Homo sapiens: one gene and its partners. The protein of the gene in region 6 interacts with the protein of the main gene of each other region in a biochemical or structural test. Each region holds a gene or a part of one and is shown on either strand. Other genes may lie near its edges.

The links.
Region 1: the proteins of POLI (region 6) and GNG7 form a complex in vitro, tested with the Homo sapiens proteins (one large-scale study listed by BioGRID).
Region 2: the proteins of POLI (region 6) and PSG6 form a complex in vitro, tested with the Homo sapiens proteins (one large-scale study listed by BioGRID).
Region 3: the proteins of POLI (region 6) and DAPP1 form a complex in vitro, tested with the Homo sapiens proteins (one large-scale study listed by BioGRID).
Region 4: the proteins of POLI (region 6) and ALAD form a complex in vitro, tested with the Homo sapiens proteins (one large-scale study listed by BioGRID).
Region 5: the proteins of POLI (region 6) and CCR6 form a complex in vitro, tested with the Homo sapiens proteins (one large-scale study listed by BioGRID).
Region 7: the proteins of POLI (region 6) and KMT5B form a complex in vitro, tested with the Homo sapiens proteins (one large-scale study listed by BioGRID).

The regions. Positions count from the first base shown.
Region 1 is NC_000019.10:2,699,895-2,704,144, reverse strand, and holds the start of GNG7 (guanine nucleotide-binding protein G(I)/G(S)/G(O) subunit gamma-7), read left to right. Parts: upstream 1-1,450; 5' UTR 1,451-1,499; intron 1,500-4,250. UniProt on the Homo sapiens protein: Guanine nucleotide-binding proteins (G proteins) are involved as a modulator or transducer in various transmembrane signaling systems.
Region 2 is NC_000019.10:42,911,395-42,914,894, reverse strand, and holds part of PSG6 (pregnancy-specific beta-1-glycoprotein 6 isoform b precursor), read left to right. Parts: intron 1-3,500.
Region 3 is NC_000004.12:99,815,457-99,819,626, reverse strand, and holds the start of DAPP1 (dual adapter for phosphotyrosine and 3-phosphotyrosine and 3-phosphoinositide), read right to left. Parts: upstream 2,801-4,170; 5' UTR 2,714-2,800; coding exon 2,613-2,713; intron 1-2,612. UniProt on the Homo sapiens protein: May act as a B-cell-associated adapter that regulates B-cell antigen receptor (BCR)-signaling downstream of PI3K.
Region 4 is NC_000009.12:113,388,549-113,391,284, forward strand, and holds part of ALAD (delta-aminolevulinic acid dehydratase), read right to left. Parts: intron 2,386-2,736; coding exon 2,250-2,385; intron 2,129-2,249; coding exon 2,045-2,128; intron 1,946-2,044; coding exon 1,857-1,945; intron 1,281-1,856; coding exon 1,225-1,280; intron 1,139-1,224; coding exon 1,051-1,138; intron 977-1,050; coding exon 890-976; intron 559-889; coding exon 429-558; intron 1-428.
Region 5 is NC_000006.12:167,121,942-167,125,895, reverse strand, and holds the start of CCR6 (C-C chemokine receptor type 6), read right to left. Parts: upstream 2,801-3,954; 5' UTR 2,673-2,800; intron 1-2,672. UniProt on the Homo sapiens protein: Receptor for the C-C type chemokine CCL20. Binds to CCL20 and subsequently transduces a signal by increasing the intracellular calcium ion levels.
Region 6 is NC_000018.10:54,286,517-54,290,016, reverse strand, and holds part of POLI (DNA polymerase iota isoform a (long)), read right to left. Parts: intron 2,737-3,500; coding exon 2,606-2,736; intron 1-2,605. UniProt on the Homo sapiens protein: Error-prone DNA polymerase specifically involved in DNA repair. Plays an important role in translesion synthesis, where the normal high-fidelity DNA polymerases cannot proceed and DNA synthesis stalls. Favors Hoogsteen base-pairing in the active site.
Region 7 is NC_000011.10:68,203,297-68,206,796, reverse strand, and holds part of KMT5B (histone-lysine N-methyltransferase KMT5B), read left to right. Parts: intron 1-3,500. UniProt on the Homo sapiens protein: Histone methyltransferase that specifically methylates monomethylated 'Lys-20' (H4K20me1) and dimethylated 'Lys-20' (H4K20me2) of histone H4 to produce respectively dimethylated 'Lys-20' (H4K20me2) and trimethylated 'Lys-20' (H4K20me3) and thus regulates transcription and maintenance of genome integrity.

The DNA of each region.
Region 1 (4,250 bases), on a different chromosome or scaffold from region 6:
TGGGAATACAGTCGTGAGCCACCGTGCCCTTCCCAAGCTCTATCTAGACAGTCATTCCTCTTGGGGGATGCCAGCTGGGGAGAGCCTGGAGGAGGGCAAGCAGGGAGATGGAGGTTTCTCTGTGCCCTGCAGGGCAGGCCACTGGAGTCCAGAGGATGAGCAGGGAGGTTCTTGCAGGGATGACAGGAACCCTGGGGAAGTTTATCTTGGATTTTGGCCAGCAGCTCCAATCCCAGGGCTCAGGTGGGGCGGCAAGGACACACAGTGTCAGCGCCTGATGAAATCCCTGAGGTCACAGAATATGGTGGCTCCATCTTCCTTCCAGGGCTGTGTACTGCTTTTGGAGACATACAAAGTGTTTTCCAATATTCCCAAGGGAGCTTGTGGAAAATGAAGATTCCAGGCCTGTAATCCAAGCATTTTGGGAGGCAGAGGCAGGAGAATCACTTGAGCCCAGGAGTTCAAGACCAGTTTGGGCAACATAGCAAGACCCCATCTCTAACAAAAAAAAATTAGCCAGGGCCAGGCACGGTGGCTCACGCCTGTAATCCCAGCACTATGGGAGGCCAAGAAAGGTGGATCACCTGAGGTCAGGAGTTGGAGACCAGCCTGGCCAAAACGGTGAAACCCTGTCTCTACTAATAATACAAAAATTAGCTGGATGTGGTGGTGCGTGCCTGTGGCCCCAGCTACCCGGAAGGCTGAGGTGGAAGGACTGCTTGAGCCTGGGACTTCAAAGCTGCAGTGAGCTATGACTGCACCACTGCAGTCCAGCCACGGCAATTGAGTGATACCCTGTCTCAAAAACAAAACGAAAACTAAACAAAACACAGATTTCAGGGTCCAGTTCCCTATAGGATTCTGGTTCATTCCATCTGTGTTGGGGCTCAGGAATTTGTGGATCCAGGGCCATGAGTTAGGAAACTGAGAAATCTTGGAAATGATGAGACAGGCTTGGGCAAATGACCTTAGGTTTCACCTTTCTGAGACCCAGTTTCCACCTCTGTAAAATGTGGATAGTAATCTCGCCTTCTGGCCTTATGCGGAGGGTCCCACGAGAGGGAGCCTATAAAGTCTTCAAGAAAGCGGTGCAGCAGTTATGATCACTGACATTCTTCCCCAGCAAATGAGCCCCCGGAGCTGGCATGCAGGATTCGAACCAGCTCACCTAGCGCGGGATTCGAACTCGCGAAACTACTCGCGCCTTCCTGACGTCACGAAGTCACCCTGGAAAGCCGCTCTTCGCCCCGCCCCCGGCCCCGCCCGCGCCCGGAGCCCCGCCCCACTCTCCTGGGCGCAGCCTACCCCGCTGCCTGCCCCGCGCCCCGCCCCCGCTCCGGCCTCCCGCAGCCGGGGCTCGCGATTGGCCTTGCCGGGACGCCAGGGCCCGCCCCCCGAGTGTCGGCCCCGCCCCCGCAGAGGGGAGCGAGCGCTCGCGGGCCGGGGCGGAGGGTTCGGCTGCGCGGCGGGGCTGAGGCGGCCGCGGGGCCCGAGCGCAGGTAAGGGCGCCCGCGAACCGGGCCAGGGGAAGTGAGGGCGCGGCCGGCGTCCCGGAGAGGGGACTGGGACAGCTCGGATTCGGCTGCGGACCGAGTTGGGGGTCGGAGTCGGCTGAGGAGGGGGGCTGGGTCTGGGGACCCGGGCTGCAACTGGAGGCTGGGGTTGGAATTGGGGACGGGGCTGCGCTTAGGGGGTCGAAGTTAGCTGGGGAGGGGCTGGGGTTGGGGATTGGGACTGCACTTGGGGCTCAGGGCTAGCTGGGGAGGGGGCGGGAGTTGCAGGTCGAGGTTAGCTGGGGACGGGGCAGGGGGTGCAGATCGAGGTTAGCTGGGGAAGGATTGGGTCTGGGCATTGGGACTCCACTTAGAAATCAGGGCCAGCTGGGGAGGAGGCTGGAGTTGCAGGTCCAGGTTAGCTGGGGAGGGGGCTGGAGGTGGGATTGGAGGTCTGAGTTAGCTGAGGAGGGGGCTGGGGGTGAGACTGGAGGTCTGAGTTATCTGGGGAGGGGACTGGAGTTGCAGGTCGAGGTTAGCTGGGGAGGGAGCTTGGAGCGGGATTGGAGGTCTGAGTTGGCTGGGGAGGGGTCTGGAATTGCAGGTCCAGGTTAGCTAGGAAGGGGCTGGTGGTGGAATTGGAGGTCTTGAGTTTGCTGGGGAGGGGGCTAGAGTCGCAGGTCGAGGTTAGCTGCCGAGGGGGCTTGGAGTGGGATTGGAGGTCCAAGCTAGCTGGGGAGGGGGCTGGAATTGTAGGTCGAGGTTAGCTGGGGAGGGGGCTGGAAGTGGAATTGGAAATCTGAGTTAGCTGGGGAGGACGCTGGGGATGGTGTTGGGGGTTGAGGTTAATTGGAGCGGGGAACAGGGGTTGAGTCAAGGGTGCAGCTTCTTTGAAGAGGGAGCTGGGAGTGGGGTTGAGGTTTGCAGGGAGCTGGAGAGGGGGCTGGGGATGGAGTTTGAAGTGGGGTTCATTGGAGAGGGGGCTGCAGAGGGAATTAGATGTTGAGGTTGTCTGGGGAGAGGACTGAGGAATGGGGTTGGTGAAGATGGGGGGGTGTGATTGACGGCCCAGGGGTTAGGGTTAGCTGAAAAGGGGCAGAAGGACAAAGCTGGGGTGAGCCAGGGAGTGGCTGGAGCATACAGGTGGGGGTCAGGCTTGTTCCAGAAAGGGTCTGGGGGCTATCAGGGGAAATGGGGAGCTTGTGAGTGTGTGGGGTGGAAGGGGGTTCAGGGAGAAGGAAGTTGGGGTGAGTTAGTGAGAAGGGAGGTGGGGGTAAGGTCCCAGGCTGGAGACACCTGGGGGCAGGTGTTTTGCTAGACATTGACTAATCAGGAGGAAAACGGGGTGTGGGGAGGTGTCTCAGGTAGGATCCAGTTAAAAGGAATTTGGAGAGGACTCACCCCTCTACTTTTGGGGGAGATGTTAATTGTTTGCTCTAGAACTGGGCACGGGGCAGAACCCCCTGGGGAACAGTGAGTTGAAGGAGACGGGAGTTCGGAATACTTTTTGAGGTTTATTTCTAGGATATAGGGTGCCAAGGAGAACGCTTCAGGAAGGAGAAAGGCTCCTGTCGGTGACTGAATTTTTCAGGAACTAAAGTGGGAGTTTTTGGGACGGTGCTATTGAGCGACGTGGGTGGCACTTTATTTTTCCTGGGGAGCGGGGGTTGCTAGGGGTTGGGAGGTGGGCGGTGGAAGACAGGCTTGATGAACAGAGGCAGCGGATCCCCAGCTAAGCGTCTTCACACGGTTGCTAGGTGTCAGCGAGGCAAATGCCAAGTTCACAAACTTGTTCCCGTCGTGGGATGCTGCGATCTTGCCTTGATGGAGTGTCGGGGGCCTCTGGGAGGTGCGCCTGTGTGTGTTCCGACCCAGCCTCTCGCTGCGGATTTGGCTGTATCATCTTTTGGAGGTGTTGTTTACTCCCCTGCAAAGCGGGAATAATAAAAACAGTAGCATGTGCCTCTCAGGGTCGAATTACGGGATGTATGCATGGACTATTTCCTAGCATATAGTGAGGGTACCTGAAGCATGGAGAATAATGGACTCAATCCAGTTTTTTTCTTTGGTGGGTTTGGAGATGGAGGAGTGGGATGACTGGGTTGTCACAGAGGAGAGGAAAGGAAGTGACTGGAACTTGACTCTAGTCCTGCAACCTTAGGAGCACACATCAGGGTCACCCCCAGAAGCTTTAAAAAATAACCTGCATGGCTGGTTGTGGTGGCTCATGCCTGTAATCCCCGCGCTTTGGGAGGCCGAGGCGGGTGGATCACCTGAGGTCAGGAGTTTGAGACCAGCCTGGCCAATATAGCGAAAACCTGTCTCTACTAAAAATATCAAAAATTAGCTGGGCATAGTGGCGTTTGCCTGTAATCCCAGCTACTTGGGAGGCTGAAGCAGGAGAATCGCTTGAACCCAGGAGGTGGAGGTTGCAGTGAGCCAAGATCACGCCATTGCACTCCAGCCTGGGCAACAGAGAGAGACTCTGCCTCAAAAAAATAAAGGAAAAAAAAAAAAAGGACTGCAACAACAACAAAAATATGTCTTATTATTATTGTTATTATTATTATTATGTTGAGACAGAGTCTCAAATATGGAGCCTGTTTCCATATTATTAAAAGTGAGTAAAAAACTGAAAAGAAAGAAGACTTTGCCCACACCTGGTGGCAGGAGAGTCTCAAAGCTCGTTAAGTAACAGATGCACCTGTTCAAGAGAAGGCTGCCTGGGTCATTCTGATTAGGGGCACCCCGTAAGGA
Region 2 (3,500 bases), on a different chromosome or scaffold from region 6:
TGAATGTGAAATCCTGTGTTTCCCAAGTGTCCATGTCACCGTCATGAGAGGATCAAGGAGAGGACCTTGTTTTCTTTCCCCACTCACACCCTGCCTCAGCACAGGCCCAGTGAGAGAGACACACTCAGGAGCTCTCACATAACAAATGAAGGAATGGAATGAAGAAATGGATGATCCAAAACCTCTTTAGAGACTGGATCTTGGAATCAGAATCCTAGGAGGTTCTAGCCACACCTGTCCCTTGTCCTTCAGAGGCTGACACCCATGTTTCATCCCCCCACTACCTCTTGACCCTAAAGCCACCCCACCTCATGCAACTCTGAAGTTCTTTGGCCACCGGAGGGTTCTCAGGGCTCTTTGGTCCTGGACTGTGGAGCTGGGGGCACCTGGTCCCTGGGGTTTTTGAAGTCAGTGTCTCCCTCACTGCTCACTGCCATGGTGTCTCTGCCTCTCTCTGCTTCTCTGTGTCCCTCATCTTCCTCCCACTTCATTCTGACTGGCAAGCCCTGTCCTGCACAGCTTCTTCCTCCAACCCTAGGCCTTCCCCAGACACTCCCTCTAACTAGGCTGGCTGTTCTGTTCCCTTCCCGCTAACACTGTGGCCTGGCCCACCTCCCAGGAAATAGGAAAGGTGCAGAAATCACCTGGAGTTGCCACTCCTGCCAGGCTTCCTCTCGAGCCAATGTCCCCAGGTCACTAAGAGAAACCTTCCACTGTATTCCCATCCAGGGCTCTTTCCCTTTGTGAGGCTGACCTGTGGACAAGACCATGGGACAGGGATAGGCAGTTCCCCCATCCACCCTTGTAATTGCCAGACAAGTTCCTCTGGCCTCCTGCACACAAAAAAATATAAAATAAAATAAAATTTATTGAAATGGTGGTTTGCAGTAAAGAAAGATTTTAAGAACTCCAAGTCTGCCAAACAGGAGGGTGGAGGTTTATTATTACTCAAATCAGCCTCCCCAGTGGATCAGGTGTTAGAGATTTTCAAGGATAGTTTCAGGGGCACAGGACTAAAAAATGAGTACTGCTGATTGGTGATGGAATCATGCGGGCGGAGGGAAATGATCTGTTAGTGCTTGAATCTGCCTCTAGGTAGGGGCCACATGACTGGCTGAGCCATTAGGCATAGGTATGGATGAGGTCAGCCGGTTGTCAGAAGGCAAAAGAATGAGAAACATTTCAAAAGACCAATCTCACGTTCTACAATAGTGATGTTATCTATAGGAGCAATTATAGGAGCAATTAAGCCCATAGGCTCATTTCACCCATTTCACTAGTGACTCCATCCTCAACCTGCTATGGAGCTCACATTCTCCGGTCACTTTCTAGAGACTTCTGGCTTCCTGTCAGGCATAAAACAAGCTTGAAATTTGTCACTCGGTTCTAACACTAAGTAAAAAGCTGAACAAACTCAAAAGTCAACAACTCATTAAAATCCTTCAGAGATGGCTGGGCACAGTGGCTCACGCCTATAATCCCAGCACTTTGGGAGGCTGAGGCGGGCACAAGGTCAGGAGATAGAGACCATCCTGGCTAACATGGTGAAACCCCGTCTCTACTAAAAATACAAAAAATTAGCTGGGCATGGTGGTGGTCACCTGTAGTCCCAGCTACTTGGGAGGCCGAGGCAGGAGAATGGCATGAACCCAGGAGGTGGAGCTTGCAGTGAGCTGAGATCATGCCACTGCAGCTGGGGTGACAGAGCGAGACTCTGTCTCAGAAAAAAAAATGCTGTTAGAGAAATGAAGAATGCTTTTGATGCTTACTGATAGACCGCACAGAGCTGAGGAAAGAATCCCTAGCTTGAGAATGTGTCAATAGAAACTTCCAAAACTGAAACAGGAAAGCTCAAAAAGAGTGGGGAAAAAAAGCGGAACAACATATTCAACTTCATATTTAATATTTTGTTTTGACAATAGCAATTTTTAAATTTTGTAGTTGTGGGACAACTACAAAGGCTGTCACATACACTTAACGGGAATACTTGTGGTTTGGGGACCAGATGGAGGTGGCCAGGTAGGTCCTATCTCATGGTTTTACTGCCTGTGCCACATACAACTATTTCCTCATGATGATGCCGTTTTCATAAGTTGGAGTTCTTCGTGTGGGGAGACACAAGAGCCATTGGCATCTCACTTAGACTCTTCCTAATTCACACAAACTTAAATTTTAGTGGTGTTTCCTGACCTTAAGAGAAAATGAAGAAGACATTTCACATACCTGTTTTGGGGTCCTCCCCATGTTTTGTAACTCTGCACAGAAATTAGAAGCAGGTTCTTTCTATATTTACTAACATAACACACATCACTTCTTTTAATTTGGCATCCTTCCTCCTTTTATGTAATTGACACACTAACCAGTTCGGTCCTTTTAACAGGACTCTCTCTACTTAAGGAGTTGCTAATTTCAAATCACCTTTGGCATCTTTCTTTGAGCATAATGTGATCCTGCTGGAATTCATGGCACACCTAAACCTTATTTTGGTCTCAAGAGAAATATGACTACCAGCAATTGATCTTAGATGTTTGGACCATCAGTAAAAATTTCCACTTATGAAAACATTTTAAGGTTTCCTCCAAATTTTTTTTGTTACTAGAGTCAGAATATAACATGAGGTCTAAACTCCTGACAACTTTTTATGGGAAAATTACAGTATTACAAATTGAGCATCGGAAATCCAGAAATCCACAATCTGAAATGCTCAAAACTCAACACTTCTGACCACTGATGTGATGCTAAAAAGAAGTGCTCACTCGCGCATTGTGGATTTTAAATTTTTCAGATTTGGGATGCTAAACCAGTACATATACTGCAAATATTCCAAAATAAAAAAAATTAGAAATCCAAAACACTTTGTTTTAAGCTTTCTGCATAAGGAGCACTGTATCTGCATGAAGTATAGGCACGAGGCTGCACAGGAGATCTCTAGAACCTCCTCATCCTGCATAACAGAAACCGCACACCCACGGAACAACGCCCTATACCCGTGATTTCAGTTGCTGCAAACTACTATTCTAATCTCTGATTCCCTCTGGAATCCACTGATATGAGGTACATAGAGTAGTCAAACTCAGAATCAGAGAGTAGAATGTCTAATAAGAGAAAGTATCTGCAAGACTTCTTCCCAAATATTGGTCTAATATCCACCAAACACATAAGGTCCCTGAGGGCCAGACTTCTGTCATCTGTTCATGTTTGCCCTTTCCACCAGTCAGTTCTGCATTTGCAAACATCAACATGTATTTCTAGAAAGATCCATATGGTCCTCAACTGCCCTCTACAGGGGGAAGGGAGCATCATGGACCCAGAACAGGGATCATGGTCTTGGGCCAAACCTATCAGCTCTTGCCTGTCCCTTTCACTCTTTGTAGGTCATTCCTTGGACTCTGCTCTATCTTTAGAGTCATTGGCTCAACTCAGTCACTATGAGACACCTGGAAAACTGCCCCACCTTGTGGCTCCACTGCCTGATGACTGAACTGACCTCCAGGCCTGAC
Region 3 (4,170 bases), on a different chromosome or scaffold from region 6:
TGGAAACTAAATTAATCAGAAGGTTTGGTAGAGATTCTATCTCGCCAGTGGTTAAAGGTTCAAAGAAAAAGTCATTATAATGTTCGAGTTATGTTCAGTATTCTGGCAGAGGCAACAAGTCATTGTCAAGAGTTCTCAAATTGTTATCTATAAAAAATGTATCAGTGAGGTGCTGCAGGAGCAAGTACTGGCACAAGTTGATTATTAAATATTCAATTCGATGATGTTAAATTGTTGGCAGCTTGAAATTGTCTATAGTGGGAGTATTTATACCAGGGAATTAGGCAAATTCTTGAAATCAGGGCTTTCTCCACACCCCAACTCTTCCCAGCTGTTTTTCCAGCACACTGTTGAGTATGCTTAAATAAGCCATACATCTGAGGGTTCTTTTTGGGAGAACAGAAATGTCCTAAAACTGATTTATGGTGATGGTTGTATCACTCTGTAAAGTTAGTCAAAAGTATTGAATTGTACACTTGAAACGGGTATATTTTATGATATGTAAAATAACCTCAATAAAGTTGCTAATCGAAATGCCCCTAAACCAACAAACAAAATATCAACATTTATTAGTAATTTTAAGATTCAAGTACACACCCAACAGACTTAAAATGAAAAACAAGACCACATTTACCTAATGCATTTGGTAGATACATATTCTATGCAGTGATCATCAACCTAGGGTCTCACTTTGGAATTACTTGGAGAGTTTGACAAGAAAACACCCATCCCCAGAGATACTGAAATCATTTGTCAAGTCTGTGGTTTGGGTGTCAAGATGTTCCAGAGCACAGCCAAGGTCAAGAACCAGGACTGTAGAGCAGTTTTCCCAGATAACTGCAGGTTGCCCATTGCTATAGAAATCATCCTCATGTTTATTAATTGTTCACGCCTTCTGAAATAGGGAAATCTGGCCATGAATGTACCCTTTTTTTTTTGCAGGGAAGTGGTGTGACTCAGTTTTGTATTCAATGTCTATTCTTTGCACATGGAGGAAAGACACAGTCCTATTCCACCCGTGGGTTTCACCTGTAGTTGCTTCTTGCTGTTGACATCATGGTGGGGCACAGAGACAGCATCTAATTCATCTTTGTCATCTAAGTGTGTTCCCACAGTACTCAACCATAGACTCTGGGTTCTAGGATTGTTTGTTTAACTAAAGGACCAGAATTGAATATATTCCTCTATCTCCTCCTTTGGGGTTTTCTATTACAGTGGGCTGGGAATACAGTTAACAGAACATGTAAAGCATTGTAACTTAATAGTTCAATAAGACACTGAGGGCCACAGTTCAGCTTTAGCTTTTGGACTTGGTGACACCTGTGCTGGATGCTCACAGAAGGGCCTTTTACCTCTTCTGTTTGGGGATTCAATCTAGAGGGATAGAGAGATTCTAGAGCTCTGGCTTCCTAATAAGGGGAGTTTTCTTTAATGAAAATTCCAGGTGTTTTATCTGATTTGCCAAATGAAAGTAGAGTTCAATTCCGAGACCTCAGTTTTATAATCTAAAGACAGGAATTATTAATAAACTTTTACAGTAATACAACATAAAAAGATACAATCTCTGCAGCCTTAACACAGAGAGATTTCAACTCTATTTTGGTTTTTCTTTGGTTTCGGACATAGCCTGTGGTAGGTTGGATGCCCAGCTTTGCTATGTAATTGATGTGTGACTAGCAAGCAAGTTATTCAAACCTGTTTGGTACTTGTTTTCATCCTTTGTAAGATGAAGATGACAACAGCTCCTATGTCATTGGATTGCTATGAAGAGTTAGAGCTATTTGTCCAGGCAGAAGGTAAAGGTTTTGCCTCTCCTCATGCACAGGTGTCAAAGCCACCTTCATTGGGATATTCCCAGTGCATTAGGCAGTTTCTCTGGGAAATCCCCAATTCCTCTCTTGTGTAATACTTGTTTCTTATTAAATACCCGGATGAGTTGTCATCTGGGTCCCTTCTTAAAGACAGAGCTCCAATGACTCCACCTACCTATGCTTACCTGTTTGAAGCAGAAATTTTATCCTCTTCCTGGATTGTTGGTACTGAAAGGCTCAAAGTTGGCTCTCTGGACATACATACGATATCAAATCTCACAAATGCAGTATCAGGAGAAAGAAATATACAAGCGAGACTGTTGCAGGAACTTCCTCATTCTCTGTCTTTTGAAAAAGTCCCTCTCCCTTACAGTAGGGTAAGCTTTCTGTTTATCTTACCAGAAACACAGTCCTTTTACTGTCCCTGGGTCAGTGCTAGAAACTCTTGAACAGCGCATTTATTCATAAACCAGAGCAACATCAAGGAAGCCAGGCAACATCACCTCTATATCCCAATTCTGTCCCTCTTCTCAAAGAATGTCCAACATTTGATTTTTTTCCCTATTTTCTCAACCAACTTGTTTTCACATCTAGAAAAATAATGCCTGCTTTTCCAATGGAATTAGCCCCAGACAAGAAGATACTTAACAGATACAAATGAATAAAGTGGAAAAAAATAAATGGTTGAGGTGGCAGAGGGCAACAAGGCACTGAAGATAGTCATTAATCAAAGCATGCAGGTGGGAGTGCGGAGTCAATGTCCACCCACTAGGTACTTTGAAAGGAGATCTGCTGCCTTACCCCAAGTCCTGGAGCAGCTCAGCCTCTCCATCGGATCTGCTCCACAGATCTGAGGGATCCTGGGTGCTCATCTTCCCTTCTAGAAGTTCTGCTCTGCCCATTCGCGCCCTTCACAGAGGTAGAGAGAGAGACACAACTGGGCTGCTCCTGACACCTTCTCGCTCTGTGAGACAGCAGCCTGCTATGGCTCTGAGTCTCCAAGGCAAGGAAGTGAAACTTGGTTACTTACTCCTCCCACCAACACCACCACCCTGGCCTGGAGGCACTGGCAGGAGTGTTCTGTCAGTCAGGAAGTATGCAAACTTAGGTAGCTACCTCTGAGGACACCCACACTACATCACGCAACAGGCGGTTGCTATCAAAGGAAATGAAGAGGCAACCACCCCACCTGGGATTGGACAACAGTGCAAACTGCTTGTGTGAGGCCAAACCCTAGCTTCTCCCTAATGCTATCAGCCTCTGGTTTGTAGTGGAGGATGCGTGCACTCTTTTACCCCATCTTCTTTCTGTCTTACACACCAACACAGGGAACACTGAGGAAGCTTCTCTATCAGGAACACCTTTAGAGTGGATAGAAAAAGCAGAAGCAAACCACAAATTCGACCCTGAAGTTTGATGTTTTAGCACTTTTGCAATATTTCTGCTTGTTTACCCAGACCTTCTAATATATCCTCAATGCTCCGAATAGGGATGATTCAGAGACAATTATTGTTTCCTCCACAGAAAAAGAATTAGGAGAGGAGAAGGTAGGAAAAAGTTACAAGGGGCCATTCTGGTGCCCACCTAATGGGGCATATTAGAACTCCTGGAGTCTTTTTTTTTTTTTTTTTTTGAGACAGTCTCGCTCTGTCACTCAGTCTGGAGTGTAATGGCATGACCTGAGATCACTGCAACCTCCACCTCCCAGGGTTCAAGTGATTCTTCTGCCTCAGCCTCCCAAGTAGCTGGTATTACAGGCACCCGTCATCATGCTCTGCTAATTTTTGTGTTTTTATAGAGACAGGGTTTCACCCTCAGGTGATACACTCACCTCGGCCTCCCAAAGTGCTGGGCTTATAGGCATGAGCCACTGCACCTGGCCTGAACTCCTAGAGTCTTTGAGTGCCACTTCCTTCATGGGCTTACTCACACCTGCATGGCTTTGTGCCCAGATTCATATGTAGAGCAGGATTCTATCTGCCTGGAATGCTAAAGGTAAATTGCAGTGACTGAATCCTTGGGAAGTGGAACAAAGTGCAGTATCAAATGAGTCAAGGACATATGTTGCTTCCTGCCTTTTCTATGTACCTACAGGTCTCTCTCTCCCTCTCCCTTTCTCTCTCTCTCTTCCTATCTCTACTCCCTGACTCATTCAGCACTCACCACAGTGCTCTGTAACTTGTTCTCACAGTGTGGCCTGAGGACTAAACAGCACAGCAGAACTGTTCCTAAAGGACTAGATGATTGCAAAAGGCTGCTGTGCAATGGTTCTATCCTTCATCTTCCTCCCTATTACCACTGTTCACCCGGGATCGGTGAGACCCGGGTAACACTGGTTGCCAGTGGGAAGTTCCTGAGT
Region 4 (2,736 bases), on a different chromosome or scaffold from region 6:
GGCCTCAGTTTACCAAAGAATAAAATGCACAGTGAAGGAAATAGGTAAGAGGCAAGTTCCTTCCCATGCTGGTGTGCAATTCTAACAAAATGAGTCCCCTTTATGGAGTGATATTACTTCATTTAATCCTCAGGACAACCACGCACCAGGTATCTTATCCCCAGTTATCCAGTTATGGGTGAGGACACTGAGGTTCAGAGAAGTGGCTTGCCCACGTTCTCACAACCAAAAATGAAGGGCTCTGCTTGCTTCACCGGGCCGTGTTCTATGCTGCAGTTCCATATCTCTTCCTCAGTGTGTGTCTGTTTAGATCACTAGTAATTCCCGGAATAAGATCCCAAGCTCTCAGGACGTCGTTCCCCAATCTAGGCAGAGTGCTTATCAGTCCCTGTGGCGCAGGTCAAAACACCCCACCCTTGCCTGCCTACCTGCTCTGCGGAAGGCAGTCATGGCCTCCAGTACGGCAGCCTTGAGATCAAATGCCCCGGCCTGGGCTCCATGCCACAGCATGGCAAACTCTCCAGAGACGTGGTACACGGCGAGAGGGAGGTCAGGGTGCTGCAGGGAAGCAGACAGGGAGACAGGCTGAAATGGAGGGTGGATGTGGCTCTGGAAGCGTCCCTTCCCCCCTGCTCAATCTGTGACCATCTTGAGCCCCGTGTCCTGGGTTACTGCGGCTGGCAGCCTGGCCCACTCTTGAACTGTTAAAGCAGGGCTGTTTGAGGCTCGTGCAAGCCCCGACATAGAAGGCCACGATGGTTCCTGGGCAGGGAAGGGGAGGAGAGGATGCATGCTTAAGGGCAAACTGCTTCCAACTCTGAGATTCCAGAGTCTGTGGAAAACTCTGTCCCAGCCCCCTGAGCCCCCTTTGCCTCGTACCTGTGCTCACCTTGTCCTTTACCTCCCGCACGATGTCCAGGTAGGGCATTCCCGGCTTCACCATGAGCATGTCAGCTCCTTCCCGTACATCCCGGTCCTAAGGGATGAGGGTATAATGTGGGTGGTGCCTAGGAGGGGGCTGAGGGTGGGGCTCAAGTCCTAGTCACTCACCACAGCTCGGAGAGCCAGGCCTCGTGCTCCAGGGGGCAGCTGGTAGCAGCGGCGGTCCCCAAAAGCTGGGCTTGACTTAGCTGCATCCCTGCAAAGCAGAGTCATCAGGGTGGGCTCCAGCTTTGGGCCAAAGGGCCAGGGATTCACAGCAGACCCCTGCCCACCCCTGCTCACCGGAAAGGGCCATAGAAACAGGAAGCAAATTTGGCACTGTAGCTCATCACCGATACCTATGGGGAGACAATGGAGGTCTTGGCTTATTCGGCCCTTGCCAGGTATCCCAGGGTGATGTGGCAGGGAGAGAAAGAACCTAGGCTGGGAAGGAGACTGCCTGTGTTCTGGTCCTGTTGGAGTGCTGGGCTTGATTTCCCTGCAGAGGCCCAGAGGTTTAAATGGTTCCCCAAAGCCTCATCCAGCACTGTCTTCAGTTCTGTGATTCTTTTTTTTTTTGAGATGGAGTCTAGCTCTGTCATCCAGGCTGAAGTGCAGTGGCATGATCTCAGCTCACTGCCTCGTGGGTTCAAGCGATTCTCCTGCCTCAGCCTCCCCAGTAGCTGGGATTACAGGCGCCTGCCACCACGCCCAGCTAATTTTTGTGTTTTTAGTAGAGATGGGGTTTCACCATGTTGGCCAGGCTGGTCTTGAACCCCTGACCTCAAGTGATCTACCTGCCTCAGCCTCCCAAAGTGCTGGGACTACAGGTGTGAGCCAACACGCCCGGCAGTTCTGTGATTCTTAGCAGACACGGGGGCAGGGCTGGTGCAGACTATCTCCTGCCAGCCCTGTGCTGCATTCCCTGCCCTTACCCTGTTGCCAAGTCCATGTGCCATCAGGGCCTCTTTGATGGCTTCCACGCGTCCATCCATCATGTCCGACGGGGCTACCACCTGACATCCTGGGGGGCAGAGGGTGGCCTTCAGAACTCTGGGGCCCTCCTAGCCACTCTGCCACCTCCTGACCCAGAGGTGCCCATCCCTGCTGGTGGTTCACTCACCTGCCTTGGCATACGCCAATGCCACCTCAGCCAGCCGCTGGCGGCTCTCCTCAGCCCGGAATGCTCCGTTTTCACTCAGGAGCCCTTCAGGACAGATGACTGGGTTTTGGGGAGCACCTTGGGCCCTGGCCTGTCCCCACCCTGTTGAGAAGTGGGCAGTAGGAGTGTGGGTGGCAGCAGGGCTGGTGGGAGGGAGGGAACTCACCGCAGTGACCATGGGAGGTGTAGGGACACAGGCAGACATCACAGGCCACCAGGAGGTTGGGGAAGGTCTTCCTCAACAGATGGATTGCCTCAATAGCTGGGGACTCCTCGGAGTCAGCTGCGGAACCCCGCTCGTCCTAGGGGCAGGGGAGGGACAAAGCAGTGTGTCTATTACATGTAGCTTTGGAAGGCAGGATGACAGCCATCACAGAGCATAGCCCTGGCCTTCTCCTTCCTTCATCATCACAGCCCCTGGATAAGGAAGCACAGAGGACTGACCCTACATGGGTGCTGACTTAAGGGCAAAGACCACGTCCATTCACCTGTGGCCCCAGGGCCAGCACAATGTGGGAGTGAGGGTGCAGTCAGTGTGGACCCTCAGTCCACCTTTGCCCAACCTCCCTTCCTTTTTCTGTTTGTATTGGAGACAGGGTCTTGCTCTGTCACCCAGGCTAGAGTGCACTGGCGCGATTTTGGCTCACTGCAGC
Region 5 (3,954 bases), on a different chromosome or scaffold from region 6:
AGAATAATATTTCTTACATAGCATTTAAAATGTTCAATTTTTTTTGCAATTTTTATTGCAATAAAGTAATGTGGCTTCCTAGTACAACTTTTATTAGGTACAATATGCAATAGAGTATCTCAGAAAGTAATAATTAATTGGCTAATTCATTTAGAAATGAAAAGAACACCTAATTATACATTCTGCTAAAAAGCAGAACCAGAAGAAAGAGGGAGGGGCTGCCCTCACTATAGGATTTAAGGCCGTGTTCAGTTCTCCAAACACAGCCACACTCATCTCCCCCCGGCCTTCAACGGTGCCTCTACCTTAGAGAAAACCATGTTTTTGGACTTGAGGGCATTGGGAGTCCTCTAATCACAGGCAAATGGCCCCAGAAGAGGTGGGTAGCCACAGCACACACTCTCAGGGAGACCAATACTGGCTGGCTCTGTGGTGGTAGCAAAGAGGGAAGGCCGGTGAGAGCTGTGGGTGGGGGGCTCCCCAAGAAGAGCAGGGGTTGGGGGGACCAAGCAACAGACCGACTGCCATTGATCATCCCTTTGGCCAAGGACAGACTCTGTCCAAGAAAATTCAATATGGGGAAAACATTAGTAATAGTTATGAAAATATTACTGGTAATAAAAACTGTGTGGACTTGTAATTTAAAAACATTTAATAACTAGCTTAACAATGTGTTACAATTGTCAGACAGTTTTAAATTTGTGCTTACTTTCATAAATAGTAGTGGCCCTGCAAAACAAGGAGCAAGAACTAAATAAGAGTATGTGTGTGTGTGTGCATATGTCGGTGTGTGTGTATGTATGTGTCTAGGCATGTGTGCATGTGTGCAGTGTGCATATGCCTGCATATATACACCTGTTTATATCATGTATGTGTATATGCATGTGTATGCATGTGTGTATATAGGTGTGCACATGTGTGTATACATGTGTATGTGTGTATTTGCATGTGTGTGCATGGGTGTATATTGGTGCCTGCATGTATACATACATGTGTGTATGCATGCATGTGTGTGCAGTATGTGTATAACTGTGTGTGTGTACATATGGACGTGTGTGTATGTATATATGCACGCATATGTGTGTGTGTGTGTGTGCGCGCATATGCTGTAAATTAAGTTCTAGTTACCTGCTAGGCATTAGAATCACTGGTTTACAGCTGTTTATCTCTTTTAACCTCACAAAACCCTTTAAGGTAGACATCATACCCATTTTACAGATAGCGAGTGTAGCTCATCTAGGACTGTGAGTACTGGTGAGACTCCCATTACTGTCTCTTACTCGCCGTTCTAATTCACCTTGCCACCAGCAGGTCTTAGTGAAATGCCATAGAATTCCCACAAGATCTTAAATAATATATTTATTTTAAAACATCTTATTGATATCAGAGTTTTGCATACTGTAATGGTAGGTGTTCAATACATTTATGTTCTCTAAGTTTATTTGAATCATGGGCCCACCATATTTTATACCTTTTTAGATAAGCATCAGTGGAGCTGAAACTCTAGGCTGGCTTCCTTCTGCTTTTGAATGAGAGTGGCTAAGGAGGAGACCAGGAGGTTTGATTTTTTTTTTGTTTTCCCCCGGTGATTTGTTTATTAAGCTTCTGTGGGTTGGTTTTTTTTTTTTTTCAGTTCCTTTAATTTCTTTGGAAGTTTGCTTTTATGTTTTCTGTTTTATTTGCAGAAATTACATCTTTAACCATTTAAAGAATAGCTTTAGTTATGGCCTTGCATTTTTGTTTTTCTTTATAAAGCTGATCTCTACAATATCTATGTCCTGCTGCTAAGTGGACTTTGGAGCTGATCTCCGGCTGGAGTGCAGTAGCGTGATCTCGGCTCACTGCAACCTCCGCCTCCCAAGTTCCAGTGATTCTCCTGCCTCAGCCTCCCAAGTAGCTGGGATTACAGGCACATGCCACAATGCCTGGCTAATTTTTGTATTTTTAGTAGAGACGGGATTTTACCATGTTGGCCAGGCTGGTCTCGAACTCCTGACCTCAGCTGATACACCCAGCTTGGTCTCCCAAAGTGCTGAGATTACAGGTATGAGCCACTGCACCTAGCCTGGCTCCCTTTAATATCATTGTGTATTATTTTCTGGTCATAAGATACTGCCTTCATAATCACAGTGGCATTGGCAGCCCTCATGAGAGCTTTGCAACTGAGACTTGTTGAAATTTCCACCTTGTCAATTTCTCTTAACTCCCCCTCACAAGCTCCTTCCTGCTCAATCTTAGGCTGTCCGGGATGCCCACTCATCAGCCTTCATTGCATAAATGACTTACTGCCTCCAAAATATTTCTTAGCTTAATTTTTTTGTTTTCCAAAATCTTTCAGTGTATTTGATCAAATAAAGAATCACATTCCTCTCCAGACTGATGCCCTGAGGATATCTCCTGTATGAGGAGCAAGTACCCAGACCATCACCGAAGCTCCAGTGCAGGGAGCGAGTATGAAATCCCTTACTATACACTTAGAGGAAAAGTGGGCTTCCTAAAACCATAAAGTCAATGCTTTCAGGAAAGGAAGTCTGTGTCGTTAAGCATAAACATGGTCAATATGCCAGCATTCTGGAAGATTAATGAGTAAAACAGTCCCATTCCTGTCAGACTAGGGGATCAAAGAAGTTACATTTTTGAAAGAAAAGTCTCAGGGGCCTTGGCATGCTCACCTCAGGCAGTGCTCTGATCCACTCCCTTCAGCCTCACTCCGGGCCCCACAATCTGATGACTCCAGCTCACCAATGTGATGACCATCTGTCAATAAGATGCAGCTTCTAGCAGTCATTAAGAAAAAAGCGGTGAGCTACTAGAATTGCCCAAAAGCAAGTTCTGGATTGCCACTTCCTATTGAAAAGTAACGCCTATTTGCCCAAATGCAAATGGTTAACCATGTATATCCTGTAGGGTATTGAGTAATCGTAGGATCCCTGGAATCAAAGTCCAACCAATGGTAAAGTGATAAGAAAAAGAGAGGCATTGAACTCCCCAGAGGAAGACAGCCTTTGCATGGTTTTCAATTTGCAGCAATGAGTTTGTACCCAAACTTTCATACTCCTTTACCTGGTTATCTCCTGGGAGCAAGGAGTCTCTGCAAGCCGACTGGGAAGATTTGGGAACGTTTGCAAGAGGCCGTGTGAGTTAAAGACATGGGCCGGGAGCACTTTTGTGTGGAGTCAGTCAGTCCTGGCCCCACCCCGAAAGCTGTGCAGCCACAGAAGGGCCACTGAGCCCCAGCAAGCCTCGGTTTCCTCTTTCAGAAGAAAGACCATGACAGCTCTAACCTCAGAGGGTTCCGAGAAATAGCCATGCCCGTCCACGGAAGCCGAGGAGCAGCGCCTGAAGGAGAGGTGGTTCTCCATGCATCTCAGCTATTATTACAAGATACTTTGAGAGCAACAGAGGAGCTCCTCAATCAAAAGCGGGCACCTAATCTTCATGTGGCACAGAGACAGAATCTCTGGGTGACGATGCGGGTCACTGCCCTGTCTTTAGACATATCAAGGAAAGCAGCTGACGACAAGTCACTCAGAAATTTATTTGTAGATGCAAGTGCTTAAAAAATAGAAAAGAACCCTAGAATCACAAGGCTGTTCGCACCTGGGTTGCTGTGAACCACGTCTCAGGAAATAACAAAAGTTTTACAGACAATAGGTTCGTGATCAATTCTCAGCCAGCCTGATGGACTCACACTTTCTCCACTTCCCAGTGCACTGTGCCTCCCCACCCCCAGGCTGCCCACGAGGCTCCACTGCCCGCTGCCCAGCTCTGCTCTATCTTGACCACACCTCACCTGGGTCGCTCCTTCCTGCAGAGCCCTGAGCTCCACGTCCTCACGCCTGAGTGAGCCTGAGAAGCTGGAGCGCACCCCTTATCATCTCTCTGGGGAACCAGCTAGACACAGCAGGACCTGTGTCCTGCTCAACCCCACTGGCCATTTTCCCGGGTTTGTCC
Region 6 (3,500 bases):
CTTTTGCTGTGCAGAAGCTCTTTAGTTTAATTAGGTCCCATCTGTCAATTTTGGCTTTTGTTGCCATTGCTTTTGGTGTTTTAGTCATGAGGTCTTTGCCCATGCTTATGTACTAAATGCTATTGCCTAGGTTTTCTTCTAGGGTTTTTATGATTTCAGTTCTAACATTTAAGTCTTTAATCCATCTTGAGTTAACTTTTGTATAAGGTGTAAGGAAGGGATCCAGTTTCAACTTTCTACATATGGCTAGCCAGTTTTCCTAGCACCATTTATTATATAGGGAATCCTTTCCCCATTGCTTGTTTCTGTCAGGTCTGTCAAAGATCAGATGGTTGTAGATGTGTGGTGTTATTTCTGAGGCCTCTGTTCTGTTCCATTGTTCTGTATCTCTGTTTTTCTGCCAGTACCATGCTGTTTTGGTTACTGTAGCCTTGTAGTATAGTTTGAAGTCAGGTAGCATGATGCCTCCAGCTTTGTTCTTTTTATTTAGGATTGTCTTGGCTATAGGGGCTCATTTTTGGTTCCATATGCAATTTAAAGTATTTTTTTCCAATTCTGTGAAGAAAGTTAGTGGTAGCTTGATGGGGATGGCATTGAACCTATAAATTACTTTGGGCAGTATGGGAAAATGGCCTAAATTTTTTAAGCCCTCTCCAACCCATACACTTATCCACTGGCAGAGGTAGACGGCTTCCAGACTCTAGTGTTTGAGCAAAACCTTTGCCAATCACTGGCTAACCATGAAACTATACAGACATGGGCAACTTCCCAGAAGCCAGTATTAAAATAAAAATTTGAATGGAAAAAAAAAAAAAAAACACTTGAGCAGAGAAATCAGTGGCTACACAGCACAGGGGAGGTAAATTCTGCAGATTACGTTCAGACAAGTTACCTAAAAAGAAGTACAGGAAACAAAAAAGAAAAAACCCTACAAGAAAAAATTGTAAATCCAGAGTTGCTACAATACATTATCTATGAGGTTCAGTTTTCAATAAAATAGTTCAAAACATGCAAAGAAACAGGAAAGTGTGATACATATTTGGGAGGAAAAGCAGTTAACATAAATTGACTTTGAGGTGAACTTAGCAAAGACTTCAAATTCATTATTATAGATATGTCCAAAGAATTAAAGACAACCATGTTTAAAGAATTAAAGTAAAATATAATGACTACAAAAAAAGGAGAATCTTGATAAAGAAACAAAACCAAACATATAAACAAAAGACAAACAGAAATTCTAGAGTTAAAAAGTACAGTAACCAAAACCAACAAATCACTACAGGGGCAACAGCGGTTATGAGATGACAGATGAATCAGAGAACTTACAGGCAGCTCAATACAAATTATCCACTTTGTAAGAAAAAACGGAAAAAAAAAAAGACTACAGAAAAATAAACAGAGCAGCAGAGACCACCACAGGGTGGAATCAGTGTTAAGGATAAACATATAGACCAATGAAACAAGAAAGTCAGGAAATAAACTCTTATATTTATGGTCAATTAATTTTTGACAAAGATGTCATGGTAATTCAGTGGGTGGAGAATAGTCTTCAACAAATGATGCAGGAACAACTGGATACCCACATGCAAAGCAAAGAATGAAGACCCTTACCGTATACCACACATAAAAAAATTAACTCAAAATGGACCTAAACATAAAGCTTAAAAACTATAAAACTTCTAACAGAAAACAGAAAAAAATATCTGTGACCTTTGAGTTAGGCAAAGAATTTTTACATATAACACCAAAAACACTATCCATAAAAGAAAAACCACACTACTATATACCGCTAGAACAACTATAATCAAAGAGACTGATAATACAAATATTGGCGAAAATATGAAAAACTGGAACCTTCAAATATTGTTGATGAAAATGTAAATTAATACACAAACTTTGGAAAAAAGTTGGCAGCTTCTTAAACAGTTCATGTTACCATATGATCCAGCAATTCCACTCTTTGAAATCTACCCAAGATAAATGAAAACATATGCATATGCCCATCCAATGACTTGCATTTAAATGTTCTTCAAAATGGAAACAATCTAAATGCCCATAAAGAAGTTATCTCATGCTATACAGTTATCACAGTTTTGTTCTCTTTGAACTTGGAAAACATTCTTAAATGACTCTTTACTTAATTATCTATTTAAAAACAAGGCCAGGTGCAGTAGCTCATGCCCATAATCCCAGCACTTTCGGAGGCTGAGGCAGAAGGATTGCTTGAGCTCAGGAGTTTGAGACCCTGTCTATCCTAAATATCAAAAAAGTTAGCCAGGTCTGGTAGCATGCACCTACTGTCCCAGCTACTCGGGAGGCTGGGGCAGAAGAATTGTTTGAGCCTGGGAGACAAAGGCTGCAGTGAGCTATCACAGCACCACTGCACTTCAGCCTTGGTGCAGAGCAAGACCCTGTCTCAAAAAATAAATAAATAAATAAACAAACAACAAAGTTTTCCAGTGAAAATTCCTGATAGAATAAAAGCATTTAATTGCTTGCTAATTCCCTGTGAAGACCCTCCATTTTTGGAGCATATTTCTCATTCAAAGTTGGCTTATTTAAGAGTTCAACCTGCTAATGAAACTGTTGGAAAACTAGTCCATACCTGTCCCTAATTTCTGAATTACATGTGAAGGAATAGGGCACTGACGACTCTCACGACCATAGTGCTTCTCAGAGGAATACCGACGGATTATTAATCTCACTGTATGAGGCTTCCTTCCATCTTGGCATACTCTAAAAATAAAGAGAAAGTGGAAATAAGGAATTAGAAAAGTATTACCTTTTTAAATTATGTAACATCTCATTTATCTAAAGGTGCCAGATTTTGTTAAATATGACAATTATACATATAGCAGATAACAAAATAGTAAGCAATAAAGGTCCCTGAGTATCCAAATAATCATCACAAAGTCTATGCACTAAAACTCTGAATGTTTAGATGTCAAGCTCTCAGGCCTCACTCAGAATTGAGTGCTGTCAGAAATAGAAGAGATATAAGATACAATCATAACAAACTGTTTTATAATACAGATCCAAAACAAAACTAAAAGCAACCAATTTTTTTTTTTTTGAGATGGAGTCTCACTCTGTTGCCCAGGCTGGAATGTGGTGGCACAATCTCAGCTCACTGCAACCTTCACCTCCCAGGTTCAAGCAATTCTCCTGCCTCAGCCTCCTGAGTAGCTGGGACTACAGGCATGTGTGACCACACCTGGCTAATTTTTGTATTTTTAGTAGAGAGGTGGTTTTGCCATGTTGGCCAGGCTGGTCTCGAACTCCTGACCTCAGGTGATCCCCCCACCTCAGCCTCCCAAAATGCTGGGATTACAGACGTAAGCCAACACACCTAACCAAAAGGCAACAAATTAAAATCAGCAGGAAATTTAAGAAACTGAATCATTCACTGACAAAAGCAAATAAGTGAAAAATAACAAAAGAACTTTTTTCAAACTTTTTTCTTACGAGATTACCAAAAAAAAGATTTTTTTTTACAAAAT
Region 7 (3,500 bases), on a different chromosome or scaffold from region 6:
GTGTGAGTTATGGTGGGGAATAGAAGGGAAATTTCTACTTGATTAAAGTTTTGTGAAGAATGTTTCTGGCCTGCTTTACTTTTGCCTTAGTTACTTGGAAGGGGAGACCTTAATTTGTTAGCAGTTTGTGCTCATTTAAAATATCTTGTGCCAAACCTAGGGAGGCCTTCTTTTCATTGTACTGGTGGGGCATCGGTGAAGTTAAATAACTCGTCTGCTCACACTGCTGGGGTAAGGATGAAGCTAGGGTGGGACAGGTGCTTTGACTGCAGAGCCACATCCTTAATCCCTGTGCGGGCTGCCTCTGCAAAGCCCACCAGCTGGCAAACTCAAAGTGGCCTCTAACGTCCAGCCCAAGAACCACCTTTTGGAAGCTTTTCCTCACACTTGTCCTTGCCCAGTAAAAATCTTTGATGTACTTCTTGTAACTTCTGACAGAAACTGTGGGCTGTAAAGGCTGTACTTACAGTCATTTGACACTAGGTGGCATCTGTTTCTAGAACCGTGAATGGCTGTTTGAGTCCTAGAGAAAACAGTAACAAAGAAAGCATCCTTGATTTTATTTCTAGGCACTGCTAGGTAAGCAGATGGATCAAATGTGGAGAGATGGGGGAAGCAGGCATTTTTTGTTTTCTTCTGGAAGTTTTTTTGAGGACTTTCCCTCAACAACCCCATCAGTGAAAACCTTTGTTTTAAAATAACTACTGAGATGAAGACATGAAGTCTTTCTTACATGACATCCCTCGTCGTAAATACGTATTGAATGTGATATTTAAGAATGAAGCAGTATTTTCTGTGATAAGGCAATTAGGAGTTTCTTACATGTCTGGCTGTAGATCAGTAGCCAAATAAGTAAGTCTAAGAATTGCGAACGTCTGGCCGGGCGCGGTGGCTCACGCCTGTAATCCCAGCACTTTGGGAGGCCGAGGTGGGTGGATCTCGAGGTCAGGAGATTGAGACCATCCTGCCTAACACGGTGAAACCCTGTCTGTACTAAAAATACAAAAAGTTAGCTAATTGTGGTGGCGGGTGTCTGTAGTCCCAGGTACTCAGGAGGCTGAGGCAGGAGAATGGCTTGAACCCGGGAGGTGGAGCTTGCAGTGAGCTGAGATCATGCCACTGCACTCCAGCCTGGTGGACAGAGTGAGACTCCGTCTGAAAAAAAAAAAAAAAGAATTGCGAATGTCTGATCATAAACTTACCAGTAGTGGATAGTTTGCTCCTTAAAATGTTTTGCTCAATGAGAAATTCTAATAGTTTCAGTTTTTATTGTAAGTTTTAATATAAATAGAAAAATGTTCAATTACAATGCTATTCAGGAAGATCATGGTTATCTGGCCTAGCAAGTGTGTGAGTAATCAGAGGTGTAATTAAGAGGCTGGCTCTATTTTCAAAATCTATATAACTCAGTAGCTGCATTTTATACCTTCAGTTGAAGGATAGTGTATGATTTAAACTTTTTATTTATTTATGTTTTTAAAGGTGAGGTCTCACTCTGTCACCCAGGCTGGAGTGCAGTGGCATGATCATAGCTCACTGCAGCCTCTACCTCCTGGACTCCCATGATCCTTCAGCCTCAGCCTCCTGAGTAGCAGGGACTGAAGTTGCGCAGCAGCACAACTGGCTACTTGTTTTTTTTGTTTTTTTTTTTGGTAGAGATGAGGGTCTCACTTTGTTGCCCAGTCTTTTAAAACTTGTTTTAAATACACTGTTTTAAAAGTTGTTTAAAATCTTTTTTCCTGTGACATGTTGGAATTTTATGTATTTTTGGAGTGTGGTAACTGTAAAGCGTTTCTACTTTGGTTTAGTTTTTCATAATCTCTGTTATGTGGTCACTGTAACAAATTCCATAAACTTAGCGGCTTAAAACAACAGAAATGGGCTGGGCACGGTGGCTCACACCTGTAATCCCAGCACTTTGGGAGGCCAAGGTGGGCGGATCACTTGAGGTCAAGAGTTCGAGACCATCCTGGCCAACATGGCGAAACCCCATCTCTACTAAAAATACAAAAATTAGCCTGGCGTGGCAGCAGGTGCCTATAATCCCAGCTACTCAGGAGGCTGAGGCAGGAGAAATTGCTGGAATCTGGGAGGTGGAGGTTACAGTGAGCTGAGATCGCACCACTGCCTCCAGCCTAGGCAACATGTGAGACTCTGTGTCAAAAAAAAAAAAAAAAAAAAAAAACCGGAAATTTATTCTCTCACGGTTTTCGAGGCCAGAAGTTCAACATCAGTTTCACTGGGCCAAAGTCAAGGCGTTGGCAGGGCTGTGGAGGGAAGCTGCTCTTTGCTTCTTCCAGCCTCTGGTGGGCTGCAGCATTCCCTCACCTGTGGCCACATCACTCCAGTCTGCTTCACCTTCTGTACTTTGTGAGGTGTCAAATCTCCCTCTGCCTCTTATAAAGTCATTTGAGTGGCATTTAAGGCTTACCCAGATAATCTAGGATAATCTCTTTTATCTCAAAATTTTTTATAACATCTTCAAAGACCATTTTCCTTATAAGGTAGCATTCACAGGCTCCAGAGATTAGGAGCCGATGTCTTTGGGGGCCGTTTTCCACCATACTACAGTCTGCTTTAGAGCTGTTAGCTCAACAAGTTTAGTCTTTTTCAAAACTTAGTGATGGTGTCTGTGGCCATCGTTTTATTCTGAAAGGGCAGTGGGTGAAGCATTCTACCTTGGTGGTAGGTAAACTGCTCAGCTTCAGACGCTATTCTCTTGGTGGCCTGAGTGAGGGCATTACCACCTGAGGGTACTTGGGAAAGCTGTTGAATTGGGTGAAGCAAAATGCATCCAAGCTTGACCCTATGAAAGCTAGAGAAGGAAAGTAGGAATGATAATATCATGGACATTTGTAATTATTTTAGGAGTATAGAGACGTATTCTTTGCTATGGAGTTGATGGTTCTAGATACCTGATTACCATTTGAATTAGCGTGACAGCTCTAATTTTAAAGTAAAGGCTCTGCCTTAGGTAGAAGCATAATTGTGAATTCAGGGAAATGAAAACCCTGAGGCCTTTCTCTTTTCATAATACTAACACCCCGTTGAACTACTCTGACAAGTCACCTAGCTTCTCAGGTGAGACAACAATGTTTATAGGAGCAAGTTTTAAGGTTACAGGTATGAACGTGAATTCGTGGTAGTTTTCTAACAAATTAGCAACTGAGAAATTGCCCTGTCAAGCAGTGTTAATGGTGTTATGATGGAATATTGGTCACAAATGCTTCTGATAGCTTTGCAGGGCTTCTTTTATTGGCCTCATCGCTGGGATTGATACCATAGGATTCCGTGGAGCCTTAGTTATTGCAATATTGATTGCAGACGGCTTTGGAATAGCCATTGATAAAGACCGATTTGGAATTCTTTGATGTCAAGTCCTTTTGTGATTTCACATTTAGGAGAAAACTAAAAACCGATTCTGCTTATGTGTAGCAGTTGGTTTGAGAATAGAAAGGGAAGGTGATATGAATGGACCTATGTCTGGTCTTGTGCTGGAT